Linked DNA regions of Homo sapiens. The protein of the gene in region 1 interacts with the protein of each later gene in a pairwise test. Each region holds a gene or a part of one and is shown on either strand. Other genes may lie near its edges.

What was found. The genes of interacting proteins can lie anywhere in the genome.
Region 2: the proteins of CSTF2 (region 1) and ZNF341 interact in binary tests that used the Homo sapiens proteins (3 or more experiments, as listed by UniProt).

Annotation. Positions count from the first base shown.
Region 1 is NC_000023.11:100,830,375-100,837,401, reverse strand, and holds part of CSTF2 (cleavage stimulation factor subunit 2), read right to left. Parts: intron 6,595-7,027; coding exon of another isoform or gene 6,535-6,594; intron 6,353-6,534; coding exon of another isoform or gene 6,180-6,352; exon of another isoform or gene 5,894-6,179; intron 5,888-5,893; coding exon 5,746-5,887; intron 4,669-5,745; coding exon 4,493-4,668; intron 4,223-4,492; coding exon 3,930-4,222; intron 64-3,929; coding exon 1-63. UniProt on the Homo sapiens protein: One of the multiple factors required for polyadenylation and 3'-end cleavage of mammalian pre-mRNAs. This subunit is directly involved in the binding to pre-mRNAs.
Region 2 is NC_000020.11:33,748,972-33,755,998, reverse strand, and holds part of ZNF341 (zinc finger protein 341), read right to left. Parts: coding exon 6,927-7,027; intron 2,828-6,926; coding exon 2,576-2,827; intron 1-2,575. UniProt on the Homo sapiens protein: Transcriptional activator of STAT3 involved in the regulation of immune homeostasis. Also able to activate STAT1 transcription.

The DNA.
Region 1 (7,027 bases):
GCCAGGCTGGCTTCCACCCTGTATACTTGCTCCTTGCATTCCTGTTCCCTGCATGACTGGGACCTATGTGTACAAAGAGAAAAGAGAGATTTTTGGCATTTTTAATGTATAGGTAACCTGAATTCAGTAATAATGTGACAAATTATGATCTCTATACAGATATGAGTAAAAAAAGCAAATCAATGACTCTGAAGATCATTTTCTACTGTTAGCAATAGCAGAAGGCAGGGTTTAGCCAGAGATCAACTAGCAAGTTCGACATACTTGCTTACAACACCTCCAGCATCATCAACAAATATTACACAGCACAACTGGATACCACTGAATTAATCAAAATTCAGCCAAATAAGCACAGTGAAAACTGAGAACACCCTGGAAACTAGTGCTCACTGGAAATACAAATGAAAGCCAACAGAGTCTAGAGAAAATGTATGCTGGTCCACTGGGGAAGTTACATTCACAGGGCCACCCCCTACCCTAGTTCAATCAGATACAGGTAGTTTGTCCCAAAGGGCCCTATCCCACAAGTGAGGCAGAGATGTTCATAATGTCAGAGAGGCAGAAAGGCAATGGGAAGGCCTCCAGGAAAAAGACTGCTATTAGCCCAACATTTGCTGTTTATAGCTTTCCATAGAGAACATATGGCAGATGCTTTCTGCTAAATGTAGACCAAAAAATATGACTGACTGGAGTGAAAAAACCAAGTACAGTGATATCATACTTACTGGTACTTAAGATCTTCAATGAGTTCAACCCTTTGCAAGACTACCAGAACCCAAGGAAAAGACCTCTTGAGTACCAAATCTAACTGTTAGAATGTCCCTATACAAGCATTATGTTCACACTCAGGCATTCACCCAGAGCTTAGGTACTCTCTTAATAAACACATATTGTTAACAAACTTGTTACCTGCTTACCCAGCAGATTAGAAGCAGCAAAACATAAAAGAAATACGGATAAATAACTGTTAGGAGCAGATACCACTTCAGTAATATGAAGAGCCAGGTGACGGCCTGACAGTGAAGGAGACCAGAAACCAAACAGGAGATAACTATGTTTTATATTACGGTATAGACAATAATGAATCTATTCAATGATGACCTTGAGTAGTCAAAACTGATTAAACTATTTTTTTGTATCCTGTTCAAGAAAGGAAATATCAAATACTTTTTATAATTTTTTATTAAAAAAGTTAAAAAACTTGGTAGAATAGTTCTATTATCTGGAACATTCACTTACATGCATTAACTCATTTCCCAAAGACAATGGATAGATGAAACATTAGTACAGATTTGTATAGACTGCTAGAATATTATCACTGTTCTGTTCATTATCAATACTGAAACCAGAGACAAGTTTCCAGAGACCAGTCTGAACATTAACGAGCTATTATGGGTCTGAAACACCTATGAGTATAATCTTTTTTTTTAAAATTTTTTATTTCCATAGGTTATTGGGGAACAGGTGGTGTTTGGTCACATGAGTTTATAGCAGCACAATTCGGAATTGAGTATAATCTTTTTGAAGCTTTAATCTGAGGTACTGTAATTGTGATCTAACCACTCAATAACGGCCATTTTAAGTTTCTAGGTGTGCTTGTTCTAGGCAGACAAGTACTAGCAAAAGTGACCATACATCTTGGTTTCCCTAAGATAGTCCCAGTTTATGTTTTTGCCTCCAAGTAAAGTAACAGCACTTTCTTTCATGTTCTCCTTTAGATGATAAATTATATAATCACCCTAGTAATAATAAGCCTTTTGCCCACAAGTTTCTAACTAAGTGGACTAGAGTTAATTTTAAAATCTAATTTAAAAGTATGAATTAAGGACATGTTGTTAAGTTAAAAAAAAAAAAGGTATAGAACAGTGAAAGGGGAAAAATAATATATATTCATGTTTTCCAGAAAGTAACATGAAAAATCTAATAAAAGTGATTATCTACAGGACCTAGAGGGCCACAGGGGAGACAAGCATAGGAGAGGAAGCAAGGTTCCTTTTAGTTTAAGATGTGGTCTCACTATCTTGTGTAGGCGGGCCTCCAACTCCTGGGCTCTACTGATCCTCCTGCCTTAGCCTCCAGAGTAGCTGGGACTACAGGATTCTACCCTGGCTTTTTTTTTTTTTTTAAAGATGGGAGTCTAATATGCTGCCCAGGCTGGAGTGCAGTGGCTAGTCACAGGTGCGATCAGAATGCACCACAGCCTCAAGTTCCTAGACTTAAATGGTCTTCCTGCCCCAGCCTCCAGAGTGCTGGCACTACAGGTGCATGTCACCATGCCTGGCTTGAAGTTCTTAATACATATATCTTTTATAGATGAACGAATATATATATTTATAAGTTAATATATTAATTTAAAATTTTTTTAAAGGTTTGAAGATAAAATTTGTATTTTCTCTTGCCTCAGATCTAATTGGCTTTATCGAATCTACTAATAAAAATGGTATAAACCTAGTATTAGGGTAATAAGTTCAAGTACCAGCAGAGAGAAAGGAGCAAAATATTATCCAGAAATGTTCTTCCAACCCTTACTTGCAATGTCTTGCATCATAGAACTACCAGTAAAATTATGTAAGCGCATTATGTAGTTATTTGTTTGTTATCTGTCTTCCCAACTAGAATGTAAGCCCATGGGGGAAGGGGCTTTGTTCTGTTCACACTGCAGTATCCCCCGTACCTAGATCTATGTTTGGTACATAGTAGGTGCTCAATAAATATTTGCTGAGTGACAGAATGAATGCATAAAAACCATTTCTGTTACTAGGCTACTGACCATAGAGAGTACAATAAAAATCAAGGCCCACAAACACTTCAAACACAATAGAGAACAGTTTTATTCTACACATAGCAAAAAAACCCTCTATTTGTATTTCATATTACAGAGGAGGGGGTAGACACATATCCACACATATACACACACACAAATGTGCAGATAACAGGACAGAGTAGTAAAGTGGAAAAAGTAGTGGCTTCTGTTCCTTGCTCTGCCACTTTTTAGTCATGTGAATTTGGTCAAGTCACCTGAATTCTTGGGCCTTAATTTCCAAATCTATAAACTGAGGGAATTAGATGATTGATGTATTCCATTCCAGCTCTGCCATTATCTTTCTCTCTCTCATACACACAGACATGGGGAGGAAGACACATAAAAAAAGAAGAGAGAAGTACGCAGAGGAAGGGGGGAAAAGGAAGGTGGAGCAGTTAGAGGGAAATGAAGGTGCCAGCATATAAAAACTCACGGAAGAAACACACATACCACCTCTCCACAACCAAGTCGAGATGAAGAGGGAGCATGTACACACAGGCAGAGAGATCCAAATAAAAGAGAGGAGACAAGACTTCGGTTCCACACCTTTTAAGGTGATTATTAATAAACTGCCTTTCACATTCCACTGTTCACTTAGGCTATGTGATGACAATAAATTAACACAGGTCTCTCTAAACCTAAGATTATCTAAATGGCCACTAACAGCTCTTCATATACTCTAACCCAGTGGTTCCCAGTCAGGGTTCACATTAGAATCATTTGGGGGAAGTTTTTCAAACTATCCATGCTCAGATCCTACTAATAAGAGATTCTGAGTTATACCTCGGATGAGATCCGGGCAAGTATATCTTGGAAAAAACCGTGTACATGATGTTGGTTTGTACCCCAATCAAGACTACTTTCTAACCCCTAAATTTTCAGGGGCTCTGCTCCAAATGAATAGCTATTTATTGTGGGATAAGGTTGTTTTTTTTTGAACTACAATCCTGATAGCCAGAAAATCACCACCCTAAGGGACAGAGAAGCTACAGGGAGATCCAAGTCTTCCCTTTCTAACAAGCTAAGAAACAGCCCAAGTCAGAAGGCAGTAATAATTAGGCTCAATAATCAATTCCTGAATAGATCAAGATTTCACTTGGATGCCAGAAGTCAGTGTTACACATACCTGTCTGGATCCCTGGGGGACAACCGCCCCCATGTTAATTGGACTGGGACCCTGCATTCCACTAGGTATAGGTCCTCTGGGGCCAGGCACTGGGCCTCTGGTATCCATGCCTCTGGCCTCCATCCCTCGGACTTCCATTGCACGGGCCTCCATCGCTCGGGCCTCCATTGCACGAGCTTCCATCGCACGGGCCTCCATTGCACGGGCCTCTAATCCTCTGGCATCTAACCCTCTTGCCTCCATGGCTCGGGCCTCCATCCCTCGTGCATCTATTCCTCGGGGATCCCTTCCACCTATAAAGAAAAATGTAACAAAACCATTATGTAGCTACTTGCATGTACTGCAAGAATGATGAACAATCCAAGAAAGATAGAAATCTCTTCTAGTCACATTTGTCCCCTCAGCTATTAACATATGAGACTATTGTCTCCTCCCCAGTTTCTCAGATTTGTGGATAAACCTTAAAGATGCTTGCAAACCTACTGTTCCAGCATTCTTTATCCCAGATTAGAGCCTAAGACAGTTGAGTTCATTATGGCATTTGCAATGTGATCTCCCCTTACCTCTGCCATCCAAGGGTGGACCCCTCTGATCTAGCATGGGTCCTCTTGGTTCTGCCATTAGAGGTCTGGGCTCGGGTAATGGCCCTCCCCTCAGTTCATGTGGGGGTGGTCCTCGGCTCTCATGGCCAGGGACATGGTGCATGGGTGGACCCTGATGAGGTGGTCCCAAGTAACCTCTGGAGATGGAGAAAAACGTTGTATTTTAAAATAGAACAAAACAACAACAAAGTACCAACCAGATCAGTAAGTAAACATCCAACAAAGAGCTGATGTAGTCTATGAATACTAACAAGAAAATAACACCAAATAGATGGAAGAAAAGCTACAGAGATATAAATCCATGTATTCTAGAATTTCGTTATTTGGTTCATAATTAGGGAGGAATCAACGAATATTCATTATATGTATGAGTTTGCAGAACAATGCATAAGAACATGAGCTCTGGATTCAGACTGTATGGGTTCAAATCTAGGCTCTATCACTTATTAGCTGTGTGATATTGGACACATTATTTAACTTTTCCACACATCAGTTTCACGTGTAAAATGGGACTAATAATGGTATCCATCTCACAGGATCTTGTGGATTTAATAAGATGATCTAAGTAAAGTACTCAGAGCAGAGTCAGAGGCATGATCCCCATTAATGTCAATTATTATTACTATCATTATTTTATTTATTTATTTACTTTTGAAATGGAGTTTCACTCTTGTTGCCCAGGCTGGAGTGCAGTGGCATGACCTCGGCTCACTGCAACCTCCACCTCCTGGGTTCAAGCGATTCTCCTGCCTCAGCCTCCCCAGTAGCTGTAATTATAGGCGCCCGCCACCACGCCCGGCTAATTTTTCTATTTTTAGTAGAGATGGGATTTCACCATGTAGGCCAGGCAGGTCTCGAACTCCTGACCTCAAGTGATCCACCCACCTTGGCCTCCCAAAGTACTGGGATTATAGGCGTCAGCCACTGCACCCGGCCTATTATTGCTATTATTAATATTTCCACTACTATAAATTTCCCTGTTCAAGTATGTATACTAAAATTTCCAATTTCTAAAAATATAATAGCTCAAAATGACATACTCAAGTACATAGTTCTGCCTTAGGAGAAGTGCTTACCCTTGGACAGTGGCCATGAATATTGATCTACCTTTTGAAGTAGGCAAACAGGTACAACTGGTACAGAAAGATTTTGTTCTCAGGGAAGAAGGGACAATTCTGATTTCTTCAACTGTTTCCTTCTATGTTAGTGCTTACCTAGGCTCTACCTCTCCAGTTACAGAAAGTAAAGTGCCTCCCCGTGGATCATTCGGAGCATCTCCTAACAAGCCTCGAGGGGTTGGGACATTCGCAGGCAAGGATCCCCGCTGCATAGCTGCTCTGGGGTCTTGCATCGGCACTGACAGGGAAACAAACGGGGAGTTACTGCTGTGAAAGACACATAAGCAAACAAGAAATGACTCTATATACCACTGACAACATAATTCAGACACCTTAGAGTGGGTGAAACCTCACCACAGCAGAATCCTCTTGCAGCTCAAGAACAGAAGCAGGGTGTAGGCAGAATCTGTGCCATGTCAGAGGTATGGATGGAATTATATAAAGAGCAAACTGGGGAGCAACCTGCCAAGGACTAGCACTGCGACCTGGAGAAACTTATGCTCCTGGTTTTCCTTCTAATCAATCTTAGTTCAAGGACCAGAGTCACAAAACAGAGGTAGAGTCTTGGCATATGTGAACACTGCCATGGCTCTGCAAGAACCCGCTGTCTCCTTACAGACTGCTATTCCATCCAAGCCTCCTGACACCAGTAGGGAGGGAGTACAGCCTCGGACAGATGCCCATATCATCCATGTTCTCTGCCCTGTGTGAAGAGGTCAATCTTAGGCTTGTGGCCTCAACAGGAAAAAATTAAAAAAACAAAAACCCAAAAACACTACCCTTTTGGGTTCTGAACGCGAGGATGACTGCCACGCAGCTCTTTTCCTCTCAACGTCCCACCCTGAACACCACAAGCAAAAGGAAACCCACAGATACAATGGGTACCTTGAACTCGCTCAATTGATGCAGGCCCGGCGGGTCCCACGGGCGAGTGCTGTAGGGTTCCTAGGTAAGCAGTAAGTTCAAAAGGAGAAAGAGCAGACACTTAAAATAGCTTGCATACACACGCAGAAACACACACACATGGAGATTGAGATTTACATATATAAGTTAAAAAGCCAAGAGTTCATCGGCTTGCTCCAGGCTACAAAATCTCCCTAAACTACACTAGCTCCTTTGGGTCTCTGAAATAGTTCCATTTTGACCAGATAGCTTTTGAAAGGGAATCCCATGGGGGCACTGGTTTGATCTAGGTGGGAATAACCTGACATTTTCGATTTTCACCTCTGCTACTAGTTTTCCGTTAGGTCTCCTTATGAAATCATTAGGAAAAAAATATATAAAAAGGATAGTTTTGAATCTTCTAGTTATGCAAAGAACATAAATGTAGTTTCAGAAGCAAAACATAAAAGAAACTGCACTGAATCTGGAAGGCAAG
Region 2 (7,027 bases), on another chromosome or scaffold:
CACCCACCTCGGGCTCCCAAAGTGCAGGGATTACAGGCGTGAGCCCCTGTGCCTGGCCTATTCATCATCCATTGGTCTTCCTGAGGTGTCCTATCCAAAATCTCTGGCCAGGCACGATGGCTCATGCCTGTAATTCCAGCACTTTGGCAGGCCGAGGAAGGAGGATCACTTGAGCACAAGAGTTTGAGACTAGCCTGGGCAACATAGGGAGATCTCATCTCCACAAAACATTAAAAAAATTAGATGGGCATGGTGGTGCATGCCTGTAGTCCCAGTTACTCAGGAGGCTGAGGTGGGAGAATCATCTGAGCCTGGGAGATCGAGACTGTGGTGAGCCGTGATCATGCCATTGCACTCCAGCCTGGGTGACAGAGCAAGACTCAGTCTCAAAAAAAAAAAAAAAAAAAGAATTCAACTCAGCAAAAAGCCCAAAGTTGAAAAAATATTTCAGACAAATATAAATAAATAGAAAGCTACAGTTGGAGTAATAAAATCAGACAAAGCTGAAAAAAAGGTACAAAAAAAATTATAAAATCTGGCCGGGTATGGTGGCTCATGCCTGTAATCCCAGCACTCTGGGAGGCTGAGGTGAGAGGATCACTTGAGGCCAGGAGATGGAGACCAACCTGGGCTAAAGTGAGACCCCTATCTCTAATTTAGAAAAGAAAAAACATCCCTCTGCAGAAATACCTTGCCTGGTTTCTATTTTCCTGACCAAACCCTGACCAATACAGCACTCAATAAATACTTGTTGGGACGGGTGTGGTGGCTCATGCCTGTAATCCCAGCACTTTGGGAGGCCAAGGCAGGCAGATCACCTGAGGCCAGGAGTTCGAGACCAGCCTGGCCATCATGGTGAAACCCGTTTCTACTAAAAATACAAAAAAAATTAGTTGGGCGTGGTAGCTCATACCTGTAATACCAGCTACTTGGGAGGCTGAGGCACGAGAATCGCTTGAACCTGAGAGGTGGAGGTTGCAGTGAGCCGAGATCACACCACTGCACTCCAACCTGGGCGATAGAGTGAGACTCTGTCTCAAATAAATAAATAAATACTTGTCACGTGAATAAATTCAGCCATCACTCAAGGCATTACTGAGTAATTAATGTGACTGCCACTGGCATAGGCTCTTATTATCCTCAACAGCTTTTCAGGAGAGTTCCCATTTTAGAGGAGCGCAGACTGAGGTCAGACAGTCCAATGTAAGATATCTACTCTAGGAGTGCTCTGCTAGGTGCTAAGGATGCAAAGTCTAGTAAGACTCAGACCCTGCCCTCAAATACCCTCATCTACATGGAAAATCAACAGCAGCAGCTCCTTCTGTGCTGGTCCTCTCTGGGCTGGTCCCCTCTGACTACCACAAGCCACCAGCATTATCTCAGCATCCCACTAACTTAACTTTTTCTCAATGCAATAAATTCCCTAGAGAAGCTTGTTCTATTCTCCCAGGGTAGGGCAAATCCCCTCGCAGCCCCTCAGAACATCACGTGAATGCCTCGTGGTGGGATCTTCCCACTGGTCTGGGCTCTCTTTACATAAAGAGACTACCTGACAGGGGATGTCTGTGGCTGGATTCTATGGTGAGTCTGAGTTAGTGTGATTTCTAGTGCAGGTGGGTTGTTTCTGTCATAACCATACCCTCTAGCACTGGTGTCTTGGAAGGTTCTATGAACTCAGTGCATTTCAAGTAGATGGCCTATAACTTAGAGCTCATTGGCAGGGAATTAGTATGGTACATTGATTGTATTATGGCACCAATTCTTTGCCCCTCCCTGTACCCAAGCCTTTGCAGTGTGACTCTGCAGTTCCTCCCATCAAGAGGTGGCATCTATTTCCCTACCTGCGCTATCTAAGCTGGACTTGTGATCTGCTTTGGCCAATAGAAGTGATTCTGTGTTACTTACAAGCCTAAACCTCAAAAGGCCTTGGGCATTTCTGTCTGCATTTTTGCACCTCCACCATGGCCATGAGAACCTAGTGGAGGATGAGAGTCACGCAGAACAGAGCTGAGTCACCCCACTTGTCCCAGCCCAGGCCATCCTAGAGCAGCTGACAGCCAGCCAACGTTCAGACATATGAGTGAGCCCAGCCAAGATCCGCAGTTGTCTAGCTGACCACTGTAAACACGTGAATAATAAACACTTTTGGTATATGCCACTGATGCCTGATGGATATTTCTTACCCAGCAATAGCTAACTGATACACCTAGCTTATTAAAAACTGTAAGAGACACTCAGGCAGATAATTTTTTTGAATCTTTTTTCTTTTTTTTGCCTGAAAAGGTAGGCATTCTCTGACTGTTCTGAGCATTACCTGCAGGCAGCTTATATTTCTGCTACAACCTGTACTCCATTCCACCTTCTCATGGCTTGCATCTTACATCTGTGGGTGTGATGCTTTGATTAAAGTCCTTCTCCCCTGTGATGTGGTACACCCCATGAAGGCCAGGACCGGGTCTGGTTTTCATGGTATCCCCAGCACAGTGTCTGGCACACAGCTGGTGCTCAGGATGGGTCCGGGTTGGCCATGATGTCCATGACCAGTGTCCTCTTCCACCCTGCCCCCTCTGCTCACCTCTAGGGGTGGGTAGGGCTGCATCCCCAGTGCCTGGATCTCCACCGTTCCACTCCCAGCCAGGGGCGCAGCAGCACTGTACACCTCCACCACACCGTTCCCACCAGGGTTGGGACGCCCAGGGGGGCCCAGGCTCTGGGGTGGAGGTGGTGGAGGCTGAGGTGGTGGCGGTGGGGGCAGTGGTGGAGGAGGTGGAGGAGGAGGTGGAGGCTGGGTGAGGTAGCTGGGCACGGAATGCATGTTCAGGCTGCTCTGAAATCAGAAAAGAAAAAGTGTTATAGCCTCTTGATACCAGTTGTCTTATTTATCAGGAAGGAAGGACATTTGCTTTAGCCAGCCAGGTGGAAAAACAGCTACTTACCAGACAGCTCAGGAGAGGGGCTAAGAGAGGTTGGGGAAACAAAGTCATGGGAGAATTCGAAGGAAGCCTCAGCTTGGTGCTGCTATCCCTTTTCCCTATGAAAGTAGGCAAAAATGGCCGGGCGCAGTGGCTCACGCCTGTAATCCCAACACTTTGGGAGCTGAGGCGGGCGGATCACGAGGTCAGGAGATCGAGACAACCTTGGCTAATGGTGAAACCCTGTCTCTACTAAAAATACAAAAAATTAGCCGGGCGTGGTGGCGGGCGCCTGTAGTCCCAGCTATCGGGAGGCTGAGGCAGGAGAATGGTGTGAACCTGGGAGACGGAGCTGGCAGTGAGTGGAGATTGCACCACCACACTTTAGCCTGGGTGACAGAGCAAGACTCCATCTCAAAAAAAAAAAAAAAAAAGAAAAGAAAATAGGCAAAAATGACCTCATTCATGCAGAAAAGAGTTAATATAGCAGCCTAATGTTGCTATCTTAAGAAGGGCTTCCCTTTCCATCTTGGACCCAGCAGAATGGCTCCCAGAAAGAAGGGTGGCGAGAAGAAAAAGGGTCATTCGGCCATCAATGAGGTGGTGACCTGAGAATACACCATCAACATTCACAAGTGCATCCATGGAGTGGCTTCAAGAAGCGTGCTCCTCAGGCACTCAAAGAGATTCGGAAACTTGCCATGAAGGAGATGGGAACTCCAGATGTGTGCATTGATACCAGCCTCAACAAAGCTGTCTGAGACAAAGGAATAAAGAATGTCCCATACTGCATCCGTGTGCGGTTGTCCAGAAAATGTTATGAGGATGAAGATCCACCAAATAAGCTCTATACTTTGGTTACCTATGTACCTGTTACCACTTTCAAAAATCTACAGACAGTCAATGTGGATGAGAACTAATCGCTGATCATCAAATACCTCAAATAAAGTTATAAAATTAAAAAAAAAGGGGGGGGGGCTTGCTTGCAGCACTAGCTCGTGACTGGGATCTGAGAATCTGGTTTGTGGGACATCTCCTTTGTTGATAAGGCTTATTTTGCCCACCTGGGGCACTGTTCTATTGTACCAGATTATGTAGACTGCTTGGACAAAATATGTGATTCATGGTGAACACTTCCTTCTCTTCTGGGAGTCTGGAATTTTGGTCATGGTGGCTGGTCACCTACATGACCAATCCCTAACAGAAACCCTGGCCTTGGGCTTGGTGCAGCGGCTAACACCTGTAATCTCAACACTTTGGGAGGCTGAGGCGGGTGGAGTCCAGGAGTTTGAGACCAGCCTGGGCAACATGGCAAAACCCCATCTCTACTAAAAATACAAAAACATTAGCCAGGCATAGTGGTGCACACCTGTAGTCCCAGCTACTTGGGAGGCTGAGGTGGGAGAATCACCTGAGCCCAGGGAGGTGGAGGTTGCAGTGAGCCGAAATTGCACCACTGCACTCCAGCCAGGGCAGCTGAAGTGAGACCCTGTCTCAGAAAAACAAACAAACAAACAAACAAACAAAACCCTGGCTTTGGAGTCTGAAGTGTGTTTCCCTGGGTAGAAACACAGCACACATGTTGCTAGACTTCACTGCTGCAGGAAGAAGTGTGTTTTGTGCAACCTCTCCCCACCTCCCCAAGACAGAGAACTCTGGATTCCTCCAGATTCCACCTGATGTGTCTTTTTCCCTTGCTGATCTTGCTGTGTGTTCCTTTGCTGTAATAAACCACAGCCATGAGTACAACTACCTCTGAGTCCCGTGAGTCTTTTGAGAGAATCATGAATGTGTGGGTAGTCGTGAAACGCAGCCAGTAACTTCTAGAAATTTATGCTACAAAAAAAATCAAGCAGGTGGGCAAAGATGTCTGTTTATGGATAGTGACTCCAGCCATTTTCATAAAAGCAAAAAACAGCAATGACCTACATGTCTATACATAGAAACTTGGCTAAGCAGAAGATGGCCTATCCATATGGTGGAATCCTTTGCAGTTGTTAAAATGATGGTACTGCTGGGTGCAGTGGCTCACACCTGTAATCCCAGCACTTTGGGAGACAGAGGGAGGAGGATTGCTTGAGCCCAGGAGTTCAAGACCAGCCTGGGTAACATAGCGAGACTCTGTCTCTAAAAAAAAATTTTTTTAGGCCAGGCACGGTGGCTCACGCCTGTAATCCCAGGACTTTGGGAGGCCAAGGTGGGCAGATCACCTGAGGTCAGGAGTTCAAGACCAGCCTGGCCAACATGGCAAAACCTTGTCTCTACTAAAAGTACAAAAATTAGCCAGACATGGTGGCGGGTGCCTGTAATACCAGCTACTCAGGAGGCTGAGACAGGAGAATCGCTTGAACCCAGGATGCGGAGATTGCAGTGAGCCGAGATGGTGCCACTGCACTCCAGCCTAGGTGACAAGAGCGAGACTCCATCTCAAAAAAAAAAAAATTTTTTTTTAAAATTAGCCAAGTATGTTGGCACCATGTATGTAGTCCCAGCTCCTCAGGAGGCTGAGCAGGGAGGATTGCTTGAGCCCTGGAGTTTGAGGTTACAGTGAGCTATGATCCTACCACTGTACTCCAGCCTGAGTGACCTGAGTGAGACGCTGTCTCAAAAATAAAAACATGATGCTGATCAGCATTTCATAAAGGACACGGGGTCCTCTTCTTCACTGTGTTCGTTGGGTTCCCAAACAGGGAAAAAAAAAGTCTCGGTTGAGAAAATCAAAAGGATTTCTATATGGCAGGAAGAATCCAGGGACACAGCAAGGGGAGAAGTAAAACACCTCCACCTTAGGTTCCTTTGGCCACAGATCTTTTTTGTATTAAAAAATCCTGGCCAGGTGCAGTAGCTCACGTCTACAATCCCAGCACTTTGAGAGGCCGACACTAGAGGATCCCTTGAGCCCAGGAGTTCAAGATCAGCCTGGACAACAAAGGGAGATGGTCATCTCTACAAAAATTTTTTTTTTAAATCCCAGGGAGCTACTGTGCATTTTCTATTTTTCTAATAGACATGGGACACTTGTTAAGAATAAAAACAAGGCTGGGCGCGGTGGCGCACACCTGTGATCCCAGCACTTTGGGCCAAGGCAGGTGGATCACCTGAGGTCATGAGTTTGAGACCAGCCTGACCAACACAGTGAAACCCCATCTCTACTAAAAATACAAAAATCAGCTGGGCGTGGTGGCGCACACCTGTAATCCCAGCTACTCAGGAGGTTGAGGCAGGAGAATTGCTTGGACCTGGGAGGTGGAAGTTGCAGGGAGCCAAGATCGCACCACTGCACTTCAGCCTGGGCAACAGAGCAAGACTCTGTCTCAAAAAAAAAAAAAGAACAAAAACAAAAGTCAGGCTGGGTGCAGTGGCTCACACCTGTAATCCTGTAATCCCAGCACTTTGGGAGGCCAAGGTGGGAGGATCACCTGAGGTCAGGAGTTTGAGACCAGCCTGGCCAACATGGTGAAACCCCGTCTCCATTAAAAATACAAAAATTGGCTGGGCACAGTGGCTCACACCTGTAATCCTAGCACTTCAGGAGGCTGAGGTGGGGGGCTCACTTGAGGTCAAGAGTTCGTGATCAGCCTGATCAACATGGAGAAAACCTGTCTCTACTAAAAATACAAAAAAAAATTAGCTGGCTGTGGTGGCACATGCCTGTAATCTCAGCTACTCAGGAGGCTGAGGCAGAAGAATCACTTGAACCCAGGAGGCAGAGGTTGCAGTGAGCCAAGATCGTGCCACTGCACTCCAGCCTGGGCAACAGAGTGAGACTCCATCTCAAAAAAAAAAGTCAAAATAGCTGCACTGTATTGACAAAGCCCCACATGTTCTGGGTCCCCACCTAGACGTAGCAGCTTCCCCATCTATAGCAGAGCTGGACAAGGGAAAGCTGATAGCCTCCCTCAGCATCAGGGAGAGCTGGGGCCAGGCCCCCTTTATTCTACAAGATTCTGAATCTGCAGGAGTTAATGTACAGGTCTGGAATCAAGACCCTGTGAGAAGCCCACACCTTCTTACCTGCACAGGTGGGGGGCCCTGGGGCATGGGCTGGTCCAGGGATGTGAAGGCTGACATGGCAGACATGAGCACATCATCGCTCACCAAGATGTTCCCCTGCA